Linked DNA regions of Homo sapiens. The protein of the gene in region 2 interacts with the protein of the main gene of each other region in a pairwise test. Each region holds a gene or a part of one and is shown on either strand. Other genes may lie near its edges.

Evidence for each region. The genes of interacting proteins can lie anywhere in the genome.
Region 1: the proteins of MTMR12 (region 2) and MTMR2 interact in binary tests that used the Homo sapiens proteins (3 or more experiments, as listed by UniProt).
Region 3: the proteins of MTMR12 (region 2) and MTM1 interact in binary tests that used the Homo sapiens proteins (3 or more experiments, as listed by UniProt).

Annotation. Positions count from the first base shown.
Region 1 is NC_000011.10:95,858,088-95,865,139, reverse strand, and holds part of MTMR2 (phosphatidylinositol-3,5-bisphosphate 3-phosphatase MTMR2), read left to right. Parts: intron 1-2,773; coding exon 2,774-2,868; intron 2,869-3,037; coding exon 3,038-3,148; intron 3,149-6,507; coding exon 6,508-6,609; intron 6,610-7,052. UniProt on the Homo sapiens protein: Lipid phosphatase that specifically dephosphorylates the D-3 position of phosphatidylinositol 3-phosphate and phosphatidylinositol 3,5-bisphosphate, generating phosphatidylinositol and phosphatidylinositol 5-phosphate.
Region 2 is NC_000005.10:32,232,891-32,239,942, reverse strand, and holds part of MTMR12 (myotubularin-related protein 12), read left to right. Parts: intron 1-769; coding exon 770-942; intron 943-4,813; coding exon 4,814-4,981; intron 4,982-6,008; coding exon 6,009-6,170; intron 6,171-7,052. UniProt on the Homo sapiens protein: Acts as an adapter for the myotubularin-related phosphatases. Regulates phosphatase MTM1 protein stability and possibly its intracellular location. By stabilizing MTM1 protein levels, required for skeletal muscle maintenance but not for myogenesis.
Region 3 is NC_000023.11:150,669,589-150,673,663, forward strand, and holds the end of MTM1 (myotubularin), read left to right. Parts: intron 1-1,839; coding exon 1,840-2,007; 3' UTR 2,008-3,555; downstream 3,556-4,075. UniProt on the Homo sapiens protein: Lipid phosphatase which dephosphorylates phosphatidylinositol 3-monophosphate (PI3P) and phosphatidylinositol 3,5-bisphosphate (PI(3,5)P2). Has also been shown to dephosphorylate phosphotyrosine- and phosphoserine-containing peptides.

The DNA of each region.
Region 1 (7,052 bases), on a different chromosome or scaffold from region 2:
TTTGGATGAAATACATCATCTCCATTGCATCTGTTTGTATGTAGATGCCCTTCTCTGCCCAGCCTAATACTTATAATATGGACTGGAAACTGAAAATGAGCTTACAAGCTGTGTTTTTTTTCCTCATGCTTTTGTTTTGTTTCATCTGTGTGATAATCTACAGATATCTACTCATAAACTCTGAGAAATAAAGTAATATGTTAGAAGAATGAAGTAAATGATTTCTTAGTTAATATAACTACCATGTTTCATTTTGTTACCAATCATAATTTTTAAAAAGGATTTTAAAAATGCTGAATTTTACTTGGCTAGGTGTCATTTCTATGTGTAAAAACAAGCCAAAGGCAGGACCTGTATTCTAAATGGATTATTATTTACTAAATTTAGCTTCCTAGTCCTTAGCATGCTATTTGTCTTTTCTTGCTCTTGGCTCTTGATTGAATAACCTCTCAGTCTTTTTCTTTTCCCCAGTTAGCCTTATATATACACCAAGCTCTTGATCTGAACTACCTACTTACATTTTTTCAGAATTGGCTATTATATAATGATAGTAGTTATTATTATTGAGTGCTTACTATCTCAGTCATTCTCAGAGAGTATATTCTTGAGAATAACATCAACCCCATTTTATAGGTGAGGAAGGAAACTAAGGCATAGGAAGATAACCTAGCTAATAAGGTTATATCTAGCATTGTGACAATTTCTTTTTCTTATTCTGAACTTAATGCCGTAATTGCAGCTCCCATTATGAAATATGGCTTTATTAAAGAACTTCAAGTTACCACTCAGTCTCATTTGTTGGCTCTTCTTCCTTTAATAGCAACACGCCCTAGGACTTCATCCTTGACCCATTTCCCTTTTCCCTCCTGTATACTCTTTTCGGTTGACCATATCTAAATTTGTAACATCACTTGCCATATATTGGCTGATGACTCCAAAATTTGTTATCTCCAGTGTGAACCCCTGTCCTAATGTAAGTAAACAAATGCCTCTATCTTAAACACACATCCTTGAATATCCCATAGGAACCTTATACCCAACATCTCCAAAATGGAAATCATCACGTTTAACTCCAAACTTACTCTTTTTCTTGCATTCTCTCTCTCAGTTGACATCAATACCAGCTGTCCATTTACTCAAGTCAGAAATCTGGTTGTCGTACTAGACTGCTCTTTTTTTCTTTTCTGGACTCTTAACATCCAGTCAGTGTCTAAGAATTTCTTGTATTTATCTTCTTTTCTCCATTGTCATGATCTCTTGAGGAATGATAGAGGGTACAGAACAAAGCAAAGACTAATGATGATAATAGTAACATAGGTATAAACCCTTGAATTTTTGTATTGTACTTAGAACTTTAGAAGCATCTTTATATGTATATTATCTCATGATTTTAGAATAAAGGGGAAGATGTAACAGAAAAGCACTGGCCTGAGAATGACATTCCTGTGGTGGGATATAGGATAATAAGGCTGAGTTTTCTTACATGAGTAAGAAAATTGACTGTGGAAGGAATCCAGAAATGTTTTAGTAACCTTGAATAAAGCTTTTCTAGTTGAGGTAAAAATTCATAAGGGAAAAATATTATTTGTGCAAAGCAAGTTTGTGTATTTTTGTATAATGATGGGTTCATTTAATTTTAAAAGCTTCCCTCTAAATGAAATATGCATTCGAAACGATTTAAAAAAGTAGTTTATACTTAAAATGTTCCTAAGGGAACTATTTTGAAGGTTAGAAATGATTGTGAAAAGATCAGTCTCATTTCAAATTCCATACAAAGCAGCCAGTCCTTCGAAGTGTTGAATGAGAAGCAAAGTCAGGAGGTTGTAATACCTTATTAAATATATTTCATGGCCCCAAGTTTTCCCAGAAGCCCGTTGAAAGGGTCTTAGAAAGTTGTTGCTCCACAGAATTGTCCCTTACTTCCTTGGAATGATGAAGATACTCCTTTATCTGCTGATTTGGTGTAATAATGACATACTAGGAATTTATGAATATTTTAAGATATAAAAACCATGTATTGGAAATTATGAACTGTGGCATTTTAAATAATATTTTGAGATACTGATTCCTAAGTTATCCTGCATAATCAGTTAATGCATATTTTACAAAACATAATGCCATGTAGATCCATTGTTTATTTGATAAAACATTACTTGTGATTATTTCTTTACAAAGTCTGGCATTGGTTGGTCAGCAGTACAATATCCTCTTCTTATACTGTTATTTTTCTAAGAAATTATATTTTAAATGTGTGTCATTTCACCTGTAAAATTTTCCCCATAAGTATTAATCAGATCAGGAGTTTGTGGAATAACATATGTTTTGGACATTGCATTTTTAGAAGAATGTTGACAAACTGGACAGGAAATTGGTGAGGTTACATAGAAACTGCAATGAGATGATGGCGACTGTGCCTTGACATGCTTATTGTTGATACCACCATTACCAGTATTCTTTCACCCGTCTCTGCTGCAGCTACCCACACCTGTTTTATCTAGCCAGGATAGTAGCCCCTTTGTTTACTTCCATTCTGTCTCATGGGATGAGAAGTCCCTCCACCTTTTCAGCCTATCCCATTTAATTCTGTGTTTCTTCCCCAGATTAGTGCAAGGATGGAAGCTTGGGTTGTAGGATTCTGAGGTCTCTGGAAATTACTGGTTCTGTTATTTTTCAGCATAAATTAGTCTAGGAATCATAACAATTTTATAAGATGAGATAGCAGGTTTTAATAGCACATAATGTATAGTAAACTGTGGACTTCTTGCTTTTTCAGCCAAAGATGTAACTTATATATGTCCATTCACTGGCGCTGTACGAGGAACTCTGACTGTCACGAATTATAGGTTATATTTCAAAAGCATGGAACGGGTAAGAGTCAGATTAGATTTTTGTATGTACATGAGTGTGTTGTTTGTAGCTAGTTTTGTTCATTTCTGATCATTTCTAATTAAAGCATTTCTGATTAAGATTTTGATCAGCTCTATAATTGGACAGTATTAATTGCTCAGTTTTAATTATTTTTTCTTTCCTTCTTTAGGATCCCCCATTTGTTTTAGATGCTTCCCTTGGTGTGATAAATAGAGTAGAAAAAATTGGTGGTGCTTCTAGTCGAGGTGAAAATTCTTATGGACTAGAAACTGTGTGTAAGGTAAATGTTATAATATGTATGTGATTTTCTTTGGTTTGAAAAGCTTTGTATTAAATAGAACCTCTGTTTTGAAATTGGTTTCTAAAATATAAAATGGATTTCCAATTAGAAATGTTATTTTAGTATGACATTGATAGAAGAAAACAAAATTTAGCAGTAATAGAAAAGGTGATTCATGAATTAGACTTAATTCTTTTGGGCCCAGTTCAGTCTACATATTTTGATATATTCACAAATTCATAACTTATTTTTTAATAATGATCATCTTGGCCGGACATGGTGGCTCACGCCTATAATCCCAACACTTTCAGAGACTGAGGCAGGTGGATCACATCAGGTCAAGAGTTCGAGATCAGTCTGGCCAACATGATGAAAACGCATCTCTACTAAAAATACAAAAATTAACCAGGCGTGGTGGCGGGCACCTGTAATCTCAGCTATTGGGGAGGCTGAGGCAGGAGAATTGCTTGAACCTGGGAGGCGGATGTTGCAGTGAGCCAAGATAGTGCCACTGCACTCCAGCTTGGGCAACAGAGTAAGACTCTGTCTGAAATAATAATAATAATAATAATAATAATAATAATAATAACCATCTTTAATGCACATAGTACTGATAGGATACCACATAGTTCCACATTGATGATTTCACTTTGAGCCTTATAAAAATCCTGTGAGGTAGGCACAATAGACATTACTACCTTTAATTTACAAATTAGCAACATAAGGCTCTGAGCAGTTCCACTACTTCGTAGTGGAAGAACTAAATAACTAAATATGTTATATTCATCATCACCTATCTTTTCTGTTTCTAGTTCTCATAATTTTTCTTTTTTTTTTTTTTTGAGACGGAGTCTCGCTCTGTTGCCCAGGCTGGCACAATCTCAGCTCACTGCAAGCTCCGTCTCCTGGGTTCACGGGATTCTCCTGCCTCAGCCTCTCGAGTAGCTGGGACTACAGGCGCCCACCACCACGCCCAGCTAATTTTTTTTTGTATTTTTAGTAGAGATGGGGTTTCACCATGTTAGCCAGGATGGTCCCAATCTCCTGACCTCGTGATCTGCCCATCTCGGCCTCTCAAAGTGCTGGGATTACAGGCGTGAGCCACCGTGCCCGGCCAGTTTTTCTACTTCTAAAACAATAGTGTGGAAAAGTTGATATTGTAGACTTTTCTTATGTTCTTATTTACTGGCATTCTTTAAATGCGTTGATACTTGAATGAAACATAGATTGTTACATTTTTACCATTAAGTCATAGGTATTTAATTCTACGTACCACTTCTCCAGGTCACTGTTATTAAGGCCTAATTAACTAACACCCATGCACATTGAGATTCTACATCACATTGTTCCTTTCTTTTTATTCTGCCAGTGCCAAAAGAAACAGCATGTGTATAATTCAAGATACTTTGTTATGCTAATCTTAGAAGTTTTGTGACTCTGGTATTAAAGCTAATGACTTAGTAATTATTTTTGTAGTTTTCTTTTTTTTTGAGACAAGAGTCTGGCTCTGTTGCTTAGGCTGGAGTGCAGTGGCGTGATCTTGGCTTACTGCAGCCTCTGCCTCCCGGGTTCAAGTGATTCTCCTACCTCAGCCTCCTCAGTAGCTGGGATTACAGGCATATGCCACCATGCCTGGCTAATTTTTGTATTTTTGGTAGAGATGGGTTTCACCACATTGGCCAGGTTGGTGTTGAACTCCTGGCCTCAAGTGATCTGCCCGCCTTGGCCTCCCAAAGTGTTGAGATTACAGGTGTGAGCCACTGTGCCTGGCCTGTGGTTTTCCATTATAGTCAGAAGGGCTCTGTGAGTGTAATCGCTGGCAACCATGTGTCAAGCACACTGTTTCCTGATCACTTTTCTGTAGTTTAAGAGTAAGTAGTGCATAGAATATAAGACGATGTGAAAGAAGATAATTTTGAATCTTAATCATTTTAAATATAATTTCTTTCCATGGAACAGGATCGTTATCAATAAACAAAAATATTTGTAGGGCCCCTGACATGGTACTTTCAGAGAACTCTGTGGTTAACAGAATGATTCTGAGTATCTCACCTAGTTATAAAGATATTTACTGAGGGAAAACAAGATATCAGCTTAGGTTCCCGCACATGTTTATTTTAAAAGATAGTAAAGCCAGCATTCTAGTTTTGGATCATATACTGTCTTACTTATGTATTGTGGGTACACTGTAGTGGAGAGGCTTTGTGTGTGGTTCTACAAAATGAGGCATAATAAAGCTATTTTGAATTCTGCCTAGGTAAAAACATTTAAATAAAATGATCAGTCTTAAAATTATTCTTTTCTTATAAATTTTTTTTAAAAAATTTTTTGTAGAGACAAGGTCTCACTATGTTGCCCAGGCTGGCCTTGAACTTGTAACAATTCATGTTTCATTCAAGTATCAATCAATGCATTTAAAGAATGTCGGTAGATAAGAACATAGGAAAAGTCTACAATACCAATTTTTCCCCACCACTGTTTTAGAAGTAGAACACCTCAAGTGTCCCTCTTGCTTTGTCCACCCAAAGTGTTGGAATAACAGGCATGAGCCACTGTGCCTGGCCCTTGAAATTATCTTAATCCCCAGTTTTTTTCTAAGTGCTGTTAAGATACCAGTAAACCGGAACATGAATAACTGCATTCAGTCTGAGCATAGAAAACTGCTTAGGGACAAATGGAAGGGAAACTTGGTCTTTAGACCTTACTGTAGAGCCTGGATAATATAAACTAAACTATTCAGAGTTATGTGTCAGTAGATGGTGGAAGAATGTGGTTATGGAGTGAAGGAAGGAACACTTTCAGGCAGGGTTTAGTTCTATCAAGTCTACTAGTAGCAGGGGACTTAGGAAGAGAAGGTCCAATGCAAATGAACCCTGGGAAGGGATAGTTAGTAGGAAAATAATCACCAGATATAATGAACTGAAGACACGTATGAAATGTAACAACTACTAATCAGGTTTTATAAATAAAGAAATTTATGACAGAAAATGGGCTTTCACAGGGAAAGCACATATGCTGATAGTTTGTATCAGTCATGATATTAATCTTCAGATGTAATATCGTTAATCTCCAGTGGTTACATCAAATACTACCTCTTTCACTGGCCTATTTTGAGTCCATAAGCATAGGTAAATTTCCTGCCCTCTGAATTCTGCTTCATAGTAGAGTACCTTGTGTTTCTTTCAGTTTTTCCCAATAAACCATTATAATTTCCCTGTCTCCAGGAGCTGATGTCTGATTTATTTTTGTATCCCACATTCACAGATCTTAACATTTTACAAGATAGTTCCAAGTAACCTTATTTATTCATTTAAGTAAGTAGTGAACAATTATTAACTTGGTTCCTAAATCTTTTCTAGGATATTAGGAATTTACGATTTGCTCATAAACCTGAGGGGCGGACAAGAAGATCCATATTTGAGAATCTAATGAAATATGCATTTCCTGTCTCTAATAACCTGGTAAAATGTTTCCTGTCTTTGGAAAATTTGTGCTATAATTATTGATGTCGTATAAAGAAACTTGTCTAGGCTGTCTAGAATCTCTACATTTACATCCCTGCTTTGACATTTAACCAGATGTATAGTGTAAGTGTAACTTAGTCTCTTAGATCAATTTCTTTAGGTATGAAATAAAGGAAGCTGGACTAGCTGATTTCTGAGGTCCATTCCAGCACTAACATTTTATGATTATATGATCTTGCTATTCAGGGTGTTTCCATGATGAAAAGTTACCTGTTGTCTTCATTAGGATTTGTAATCTCCTTTTTAATTGGGAGCCAGTTAACACTAGCAATTTGGGAGGGAGGTAAGGGTAGGCAAACCCTGAGTTCCCACTATGTGCTTTAGACAGTGTTAGACTCCCACGTTTATATCATTTCACTTCTATGTAGCCTATGGTGGTA
Region 2 (7,052 bases):
TGGTTCTTTTGCTCTAAGTCATGAATGTTAAACAAGTATGTGAGTGGACTTTTCATCAAATGAGTTTTGGAAAGTGCATGGCAGGTGGGCATGTAGAAGTAGACCAAGGAGAGTTTGTCTCCTAGGATAGGCAGGAGAAGCAGGCACCTCTGTGCCCCTCAAACAGAAAAGGACAGAGCCTTAGAGCTGAAAATAGAAATAATTTTGCTACAGTCAAGAAATATTAAACTTTCTCCAAAGTAGAGTTAGTGGAGGACTTAGGAGTGGAGGAAGGGATGTCTGAGGTGAGTTTGAGAAGCAGCTGAGCCATGAAATAGTGAGTTCAGTGACGGAGGCGTCCACACCCCAGGAGGAGTTCAGTGACGGAGGCTTCCACACCCTAGGAGGGAAGAGCTTTAGTCTTGGCCTGCGGAGCCTGGCAGGTCATCATTATGTGGGTGATTCTCCTGTCTCTGTGTGGCACACCTAGACCCCCACAAGCTGAAAGTAGCTTTGCAGTGCTGCATTTATTTATTCAGTATGCAAATCCACATTTAGTACCAGCGTATGCCAGAACCTGTACTAGACATGCTAGAGCAGTTCATGTCTCAGTCTGAAAACATAACCCTTTGTTATTGGCCCTTGCCTTTAGGGAATAAGAACATGACTGTTAATAGTAGACCTTGGTGTTGGGAATCCTACTTTTAACTGTGCAAGTGAGAGCATTCTGAAACTTTTTAACATTTTATGCCCTCCTTCCTCTTTGCACTGCTGCTGGGGCCTCTCCTAGAGGAGAATGCATCCGACCTCTGCTGTCTCATTTCCTCTCTGGTGCAACTGATGATGGACCCCCACTGCAGAACCAGAATTGGTTTCCAGAGCCTCATCCAAAAGGAGTGGGTCATGGGTGGCCACTGTTTCTTGGATCGCTGCAACCATCTCCGCCAGAACGACAAAGAGGAGGTGAGTTCCCTCACTGCAGACTGTTTCCGTCATAGGGAGAACTACTGAATCTCTTATTTAATACCTGTCATCAGATGTAGTAGGATTGCTGCTTGCAAAGTGTAAGCCAAACAGGTTTGTTAAGAAAACTAGGATCGTTTCATTGTGTGATGACTTTGGATACTTTAAATAATAGTGAAACCTTTCCCAGAGGAAAGAGATATTAACAAGTATGTTCAGAGTTTTCTAAATTGTGTACACCAAGGGTGTATACATATTTCACAGTGGGAATAATATTTATTAATAAGACTTAAATATAAAGTAACTCAGTGAGGGAGACTCCTACCTTTTCTACAAAATTAGTCTTTGCAATAAAAAGATATTCAGGGTGCAGGTTTTCTACAGAAAATATAGGTTGAGCATCCCTTATCTGAAAGTCATGGGACCAGAAGTGTTTCAGATTTCAAATTGTTTTGGATTTTGGAATATTTGCATTCCATTACTGGTTGAGCATCCTTAATCCAAAAATTGGAGGCCTGGCATGGTGGTTTGCACCTGTAATCCCAGCACTTTGGGAGAACAGGAGTTTGAAACCAGCCTGGGCAACATAGACAGACCTCATCTCTACCAAAAATAAAAATAAAATAAAATAAACTGGGCATGGTGATGCCTGACTACAGTCCCAGTTACCAGGGAAGGTGAGGTGAGAGGATTGCTTGAGCCTGGGAGGTCAAAGCTGCAGTGAGCCATGATTGTGCCACTGCACTCCAGCCTGAGTGACAGTGAGACCCTATCTCAAAATAAATAAAGTTTTAGATTTTGGAACTGAATGATTTCAGATTTTCAGAGTCAATTTTTTTTTTTTTTTTTTTTTTTTTGAGACGGAGTCTTGCTCTGTTGCACAGGCTAGAGTGCAGTGGTGCAGTCTCAGCTCACTGCAGCCTCTGCCTCCTGGGTTTAAGCTTATCTCCTGCCTCAGCCTCCCTAGTAATTGGCATTACAGGTGTGCGCTACCATGCCTGGCGAATTTTTTGTATTTTTAGTAGAGATGGGGTTTCGCCATGTTGGCCAGGCTGGTCTTGAACTCCTGACCTCAAGTGACCCACCTGCCTCAGCCTCCCAAAGTGCTGGGATTACAGGCATGAGCCGCCACACCTGGCCATTCAGAGTCAATTTTCCTTGCACATAAACCTTTTTGAAATAAAGCACAGGGGCCAGGCACGGTGGCTCCCACCTGTAATCCCAGGACTTTGGGAGGCCAAGGCAGGTGGGTCACAAGGTCAGGAGGTCGACACCATCCTGGCTAACACGGTGAAACCCCGTCTCTACTAAAAATACAAAAAATTAGCCGGGTGTGGTGGCACATGCCTGTAGTCCCAGCTACTTGGGAGGCTGAGGCAGGAGAATCACTTAAACCCGGGAGGCAGAGGTTGCAGTGAGCCAAGATTGTGCCACTGCATTCCAGCCTGGGTGACAGAATGAGACTCCATCTCCAAAAAAAAAAGAAGAAAGCACAGGGTTATGTTAATGCCATCTGTTACCAGGGCCTTAGTGGTAGCGTGGGTGGGAATGTCCCCATAGCCTCTTCTGCTTCTGTCTGGACTAATCGCTCCAGGCCTGGACCTCCAAGTTCAGGCACAGGAGAGTTAGCATTTTAGGTCACCTGGTGAAAATGAGTCCCCCAGATTGTGGTGTACATGTCTAGATGACAGCTGTACACACTCCCTTGGCTGCCTTATTGATGATTGTTGGAAGGAAAAATGAAAACACACAAACTTTCTTTAATCAACTCACCTGCAGCGCTGACGTATGCTAGCAGTGTTACTTGTGGTTTTTCATACTCCAGGTAGTCAGCATGTCTGTCTGTGGTACAGAACAGCTTGACACAGAATGCTGTGGGCACACAGAGCCATGGCTCCTGATCGTAAGGGCTTGGCAGGTTCCTTGGGTGATCCAGGTCTCTCTCACTGAGCAAGATGGTTTCTTTCAGGCCTGGCCTGTACTTATCTGTGTCCCATTGAGCTGAATAGAAATCACATCTTTCAGTCCTGGAAGGGACTTGAAGAAACTAATTTGAAAGGTTGATGGCATTTACATAACATGGGAGGCAGAGAGAGCTGATACTTTGTGGAGACGAGTATGGTTGTTTTTTTTCTTTTCTTTTCTTTTCTTTTTTTTTTTTTGGAGAAGGAGTTTCGCTCGTGTTGCCCAGGCTGGAGTGCAATGGCACAATCTTGGCTCATTGCCACCTCCTCTTCCTGGGTTCAAGTGATTCTCCTGCCTCAGCCTCTTAAGTAGCTGGGATTACAGGCATTCCCCTCCATTCCCGGCTAATTTTGTATTTTTAGTAGAGACAGGGTTTCACCATGTTGGTCAGGTATCGAACTCTTGACCTCAGGTGATTCACCCATGTCAGCCTCCCAAAATGCTGGGATTACAAGCGTGAGCCACAGCGCCTGGCCTTGTTTTGTTTTTGAGACATGGTCTCTCTCTGTTGCCCAGGCTGGAATACAGTTGCACAGTCATGGCTTACTGCAGTTTCAACCCCCTGGGCTCAAGCAATCCTCCTGCCTCAGCCTTCTGAGTAGCTGGGACTATAGGTGTACACTACCATGCCTAGCTAATTTTTGTATTTTTTGCAGAGATGGGTTTTGCCATGTTGCCCAGGTTGGTCTCAAACTCCCGGGCTCAGGCGATCCATCTGCCTCAGCCTCTCAAAGTGCTGGAAATACACACATGAGCCACTGCGCCTACCCATATGTTTTTGTATATCTTGAGAAAAGGGGGACTGGCAGGCACCATGTCTAATGGGGAAAGAGTCTGAGGTCTAAGAAGAGACCTGATCTGCTGCTGTTCACCCAGCCCTTGGAGAAGTCACTTGTATTTTCTGAGCCTATTGCCCTGCCTATACATTGCAGTTCAAATATTTTCCACTCTATTTAATGATATTATGCATAAAATGAAGTGTGAAATAAAGTTGCTGTACAAATGTTTCTTAGCATCTCAACATGGACATATTGGAGTTTTGAAGGAAAATTGAAAAGAAACATGAGCCCTGTGTGAGACCCTGGGGACCGGCCTCCAGGCATCTCCAATCTTCCCTTTCCTCCTTTGTAAGGGAGAGACTAACATAGCTTCTCTTAGCCCCCTGGCAGGATCACTGGTTAATCAGGGAGGATAAGCGCTTTCTAAATGATAAAGCACACTAGAAACTACTCTCCCTGCTCATCAAGGGCTCGCCTCTGGGAGCTAATAAATGAGGCTTGTGGATTTGTAAAGATGCATTTTGAAAACATTTTGAAACTCACTTTCACTGCTTCTCCCTTGTCTCCCATCCCCGTTGTCTTCTGGGCCCTCACTGCGGGGTGGACAGGAGGCTTCTCCTTCCACGTTGGTCTCCAAGATCAAACCCTGTCAGTTAGTGTGTGGGCAGGTGGGGAATAGAAGTTCCCTCCCACCCCCCGTAACTTTTCATTGACAAAATTCAAAGTAGCACTCATAATTAAGTACATTGTTTGGTAATACAGTACTACTAATGGAAGAATGGAATTTTTTTGGAGGAGATAATATTTTGCTTAATTGGGGTTCTAAGTTAGTGTTTTCTATTATCAGAATCAATTGCAGATGCTCATCTGTAACACTGATCCATAATGAGGTTTTTACATATTTCGTCTTTGAAATGTCTTTGACACAGATAGGCATGTAAATCGCAAGCATGTGATTTCAGTTGAGCATATTTCTCACTTGGGATGGTATGGAGTATTCTGTGTTTCCCAGAGAATGAAGTCCTCAGAAGTGCTTATTCCACAGCTGTTGAGGTGGCTGCCCCCTGAACTCAGGATGGCTTGCTCTGGGCTCTGCCCACCAAGTAACGTATCTTGTTTTCATGCAGGTTCCTGTGTTCCTGCTTTTCCTAGATTGTGTCTGGCAGCTGGTGCACCAGCATCCCCCGGCATTTGAATTCACAGAGACTTACCTGACTGTTTTGTCAGATAGCCTGTATATACCTATTTTTAGCACCTTCTTCTTCAATTCACCTCATCAAAAAGATACTAACATGGTAAGAGTCCCTCTTAGGAACCTGTGTATTAAAGAGGCTTCTTCTCACAAGTAGGATGCAGTAATACTGATGCTACAAATAAAATGGTGCTCACTTGGCAGCACATACACTAAACAAAGTTGGAATAATACAGAGAAGATTAGCATGGCCCCTGCGAGAGGATGACATGCAAACTCATGAGACGTTCCATATTTTAAAAAAGATATTGAACACTAACTACATACCAAGCATTGGTCTAAGAGCTTCTTAGGTATTAATACTTACTCCTTACAGCACCCTATGGCATATGCATTTTTATTATCCTGGAGGAAGCTGAGGCAAAAAAAGGATAAGTAACTCACTCGTGGTCACATGGTAAATATTGGAACTGGAAGCAAGTGTTGAAGCTGGGGAATTAAGCAAAATTCAAAGCTGTCCATTTGAAAGACAGTTAGACCAGATGTCCTCCGATTTTGCCTGATGCCTGGAACTCCTCTGTGAAGAGAATGGGGACCAGCAGATCAGGGAAGCTAGCCTTTTCCTTCCATCTTAACCCTTTTGGCCCTTCCTGGACTGTGCCCCCAATTAGATAATCTCAGTGCTTCTGAGCAGCCTCCTGAGGGCTACAGGCTTTGCTTGAGCTGGGAGGATTACCAAATCCCCCAGTGAAGTAGGAGCAACAGCCCTGCTTTCAGAGCTCAGCCTTGTGACTCACCAGCTTTGTGACCTTGGGCAGTTCAGTTTTCTGAGCCTTGGTTTCCTCAAATGTAAAATTGGAAAAACAACAGTTGCCTCGCGAGGCTGTGGAAGCACCCAGCACAGCGGCTGGCGTGTAGACTGCTGGAAAGGAAGTGTCCTTGTTCTTGCCCTCCTCCCACACCAAAAGCTTGTAGTGAATAACCACAGGTAGCCTCAGCCTTAAATGCCCATGATTATTCATTCTCAGGGCAGAGCAGGAGCATGCTTCCTGGTGCCTGTGTCCAGAAGTATGTGTTTGCCTTCCTCAGCCCTCCCTGGAAAACAGCATGACCTGTGCTTGTTTTGGCAGGGTAGAGAAGGCCAGGATACACAAAGCAAGCCTTTGAATCTGCTCACCGTGTGGGATTGGTCGGTGCAGTTTGAACCCAAAGCCCAGACATTGCTCAAAAACCCTCTTTATGTGGAAAAGCCAAAACTGGACAAAGGCCAACGGAAAGGAATGCGCTTCAAAGTAAGATGTCCACATGTCTAAACCCCCTTCAGCTGCCCAGACCCCGTGCATGTAATGATAAAAGGTACTTACGGATTCTGTCTGCCAGCATTTTCTACCCCTCGAAGCAGTCTGCAGAGTTGAGACTTGTGATGGTCAAATTGTCAAGGGCCATTAGAATCCTTTGCTTTCAGCAAATCACCTTTGCCCTGGTACAACAGGGCCATTTGCCAGATGTCACTGTGGATGCTGCCACCCTGGTCATACTCCATGGAATCGTGCCTCTTGTCCTGCCTGTGTGTGTGTGTGTGTGTGTGTGTTTGTGTGTGTGTGTGTGTTAGTAGAGTAAAAGGAACATTGATTGTGTGGGTTTTACTTGGCCGATACCAGTTCATTTATTATAATAAATAGTAAGACTTTTCTTAATGAGCTGTGCCTGTAAACCACAGGTTGCAAAACTCTGTCAAGGGCTGCAAAGTCTCTGTCACAACTACCCCTCTACTGTTGTAGTACAAAAGAAGCCTTAGTCTGCTCTGCCCTTGGAGTAGCCATTCTTTATTCCTTTACTTGAAAAAAAAAAAAGGAGCCTTAGTAGGTGAACAAGTAGGCATAGCTGTGTTCCAGTGTTTACGAGAACAGGCGCCAGGCCAGATTTGGCCGGAGGGGTGGCCAGTTTGCTGACCTATGCTATGAGCCACAAATGTCAGAAAGTCATTTTAGTTGATAATCCCAAAGTTCCCTAACTGATGAATTATTTAACTGACATTTCCTAGCTCTGTCTCCAGGCCCAGAATTTCTCCCCCACAGAGTCCACAAAGGAGAGAGCAGTGATGGTAAGTCTAAGTCGATGTGTGTCACTGCCTTCTCCATGCCATCCTTATCCTGCCTGATCTGGAGGGCTTC
Region 3 (4,075 bases), on a different chromosome or scaffold from region 2:
CGGTTTTGATTTGCATTTCTCTGATGATCAGTGATGATGAGCTTTTTTTCATATCTTTGTTGGCCGCATTGTGTGTCTTCTTTTGAGAAGTGTCTGTTCATATCCTTTGCCTACTTTCTGATGGGGTTGTTTATCTTTTATTTTTATAAATATGTTTAAGTTCCTTGTAAATTCTGAATATTAGACCTTTGTCAGATGAGTAGATTGCAAAAATTTTCTCTTATTCTATAGATTGCCTGTTCACTCTGATGCTAGTTTCTTTTGCTGTGCAGAAGCTCTTTAGTTTAATTAGATCCCATTTGTCAATTTTGGCTTTTGTTGCAATTGTTTTTGGTGTTTTTGTCATGAAGTCTTTCCCCATGCCTATGTCCTGAATGGTATTGCCTAGGTTTTCTTCTAGGGTTTTCATGGTTTTGGGTTTTACATTAAGGTCTTCATATATTGCTTAAGCTTTCTAGAAAGTGCTTGCCCCTGATCCCTTCAAAACATTAACTTTCTGGAGTACTGTTCTGTTGTATATCTTGACCTGGGTGTGATTACCTAAATGTATACGTATGTCAAGATTCACTGAGCTGAACATCTGAAGATTTTGCACTGTGTGTGGTTTATATCTCAGTACAAAACTTTTAAAACTTAACATGCTGGGAGAGTCACGTTATGCTCCAGCCTGACTTCTGCCTTTGTATCAACATCAATCCCTTGTTTACTCATCAAAGTAGTCACCATTGTAGCAAAACAGATGCTATTAACTCACTTCACTCACACAATGCCATGTGAGGGCTATGCTGTTTTGATTCCCATTTTACAGATAGGGAAATGGAGGCACACAGAAGGTGAGGGGGCAAACCCAGCATTCATACCCAAGGCGGAGCATTGCAGAGCCGCTATGGCTGTCAGCCATGTATTCAGATGGGCAATAAGCACATGAAAAGATGTTCTAGCAGAGCAATACAAACGAAAACTACCGTGACATACCATGTCACAGCCCTCAAATTGGAAAAAAGAATAATAATCGTATGCTCCCAAGTTCTAGTGAGAATGCAGAACAATGGGAACTGCCAGGTATCACCAGCAGGAGCCTCTCTGCAGGCAATTTGGCAGCATCTGGTGAGGTTGAAAAGACCATATTCTACTTCTCAGCAGTTCCACCCCTAGGAAAATTCCTTAGAGAAACACTCGCATATGTGCTTGAGGAGATGTGTACAAGGATACTCAGTACAGCATTGAACACACTACCGAGGAGCCCTGGAAATCACTGATTACCCATCAGCCTGGGAAGGGGTGGAGAAACTGGTTTATTCCTTCAATGCAACTTAACAAGGATGAAATTCAGAAAACATGTTGGGTCAAAATGTCAATTGATAAATACCAGATGGTACCAGTGATGTAAACTTTGATAAAACACAAAGTAATACTGTATTTTGTTGCTGGATACTCACAGGAAAAGTGTCACAAATCTGCACAAAAAGGAAGGTCACATGGCAACTTGAGAAGAGTTGTCCCTCAGAGTGAAAGAGGACAGTGGGTCTGGGACGGGCAACACGGGAGACTGGAGCTGTGTCTCGGCTGACACATTTTCAAAGATAGTGACACGTGTGAGGAAATGTGTACATTAGGTATTTCTTGGTGAACAAATACTTAGTACTTGGGTGTTTAGTACTCTGTGTTGTACTTTCCTGTATGTGTCAATGAGGCAGTAGTTAAGGAAAGTATGTATTATGGTAAACTTTGAGTAAAGGGCTTATTTACAAATCAGCAGTCACAGCAGATGGGTGGAACACGTGAGTTCTCATGACGTGCGTGGCATAAAGTGTAACTCAAGTCTCTGGTTCTCTCCAGCAGCCGAATCCAGTGGAGCAGCGTTACATGGAGCTCTTAGCCTTACGCGACGAATACATAAAGCGGCTTGAGGAACTGCAGCTCGCCAACTCTGCCAAGCTTTCTGATCCCCCAACTTCACCTTCCAGTCCTTCGCAAATGATGCCCCATGTGCAAACTCACTTCTGAGGGGGGACCCTGGCACCGCATTAGAGCTCGAAATAAAGGCGATAGCTGACTTTCATTTGGGGCATTTGTAAAAAGTAGATTAAAATATTTGCCTCCATGTAGAACTTGAACTAACATAATCTTAAACTCTTGAATATGTGCCTTCTAGAATACATATTACAAGAAAACTACAGGGTCCACACGGCAATCAGAAGAAAGGAGCTGAGATGAGGTTTTGGAAAACCCTGACACCTTTAAAAAGCAGTTTTTGAAAGACAAAATTTAGATTTAATTTACGTCTTGAGAAATACTATATATACAATATATATTTTGTGGGCTTAATTGAAACAACATTATTTTAAAATCAAAGGGGATATATGTTTGTGGAATGGATTTTCCTGAAGCTGCTTAACAGTTGCTTTGGATTCTCTAAGATGAATCCAAATGTGAAAGATGCATGTTACTGCCAAAACCAAATTGAGCTCAGCTTCCTAGGCATTACCCAAAAGCAAGGTGTTTAAGTAATTGCCAGCTTTTATACCATCATGAGTGGTGACTTAAGGAGAAATAGCTGTATAGATGAGTTTTTCATTATTTGGAAATTTAGGGGTAGAAAATGTTTTCCCCTAATTTTCCAGAGAAGCCTATTTTTATATTTTTAAAAAACTGACAGGGCCCAGTTAAATATGATTTGCATTTTTTAAATTTGCCAGTTTTATTTTCTAAATTCTTTCATGAGCTTGCCTAAAATTCGGAATGGTTTTCGGGTTGTGGCAAACCCCAAAGAGAGCACTGTCCAAGGATGTCGGGAGCATCCTGCTGCTTAGGGGAATGTTTTCGCAAATGTTGCTCTAGTCAGTCCAGCTCATCTGCCAAAATGTAGGGCTACCGTCTTGGATGCATGAGCTATTGCTAGAGCATCATCCTTAGAAATCAGTGCCCCAGATGTACATGTGTTGAGCGTATTCTTGAAAGTATTGTGTTTATGCATTTCAATTTCAATGGTGTTGGCTTCCCCTCCCCACCCCACGCGTGCATAAAAACTGGTTCTACAAATTTTTACTTGAAGTACCAGGCCGTTTGCTTTTTCAGGTTGTTTTGTTTTATAGTATTAAGTGAAATTTTAAATGCACAGTTCTATTTGCTATCTGAACTAATTCATTTATTAAGTATATTTGTAAAAGCTAAGGCTCGAGTTAAAACAATGAAGTGTTTTACAATGATTTGTAAAGGACTATTTATAACTAATATGGTTTTGTTTTCAATGAATTAAGAAAGATTAAATATATCTTTGTAAATTATTTTATGTCATAGTTTAATTGGTCTACCAAGTAAGACATCTCAAATACAGTAGTATAATGTATGAATTTTGTAAGTATAAGAAATTTTATTAGACATTCTCTTACTTTTTGTAAATGCTGTAAATATTTCATAAATTAACAAAGTGTCACTCCATAAAAAGAAAGCTAATACTAATAGCCTAAAAGATTTTGTGAAATTTCATGAAAACTTTTTAATGGCAATAATGACTAAAGACCTGCTGTAATAAATGTATTAACTGAAACCTAACACTGTTTTCAGGGCTGTGAGTGTGCATGTGTTGGAAATGTGCATGGTGGCCATCTGATTTCTTTGCCCGGGTCTGCTTCATGTACTTTTTATCTCACCGGCAACCTTGCAGGGCTCTCCCAAAATTTCAGCAAGATTGGGCATTTAAGTGTATTAAACAGTGCAGATTTTAAGAGTCACGACTGTCTATGAGGATGGCTTTTGCAAAAGTGAACGCGCAAAACTCCAGGCTCTGAATAGGGAACACAGCAGTTGATAGTAAGGGATGCGAAGATACTGGTTAAATAAGCCATAGTTGACGTCTCATTAGGTAAGAATTTTTAAAATTCTTCAAACAATATTGCCAGTTGGAGATTATGTCGTTTACATATGTACGTTCTAAGAATGCTGAATAGTTGTAGCAGTAAACTAAAATTGACCATTTTTTGGCAATCAGAATAGATCACGTGGAACAGAGCTTAAAGAAAAAAAATCAGAATAGGACTCTTAAATGACTAAGTGTATCTTTCATAACGATGAG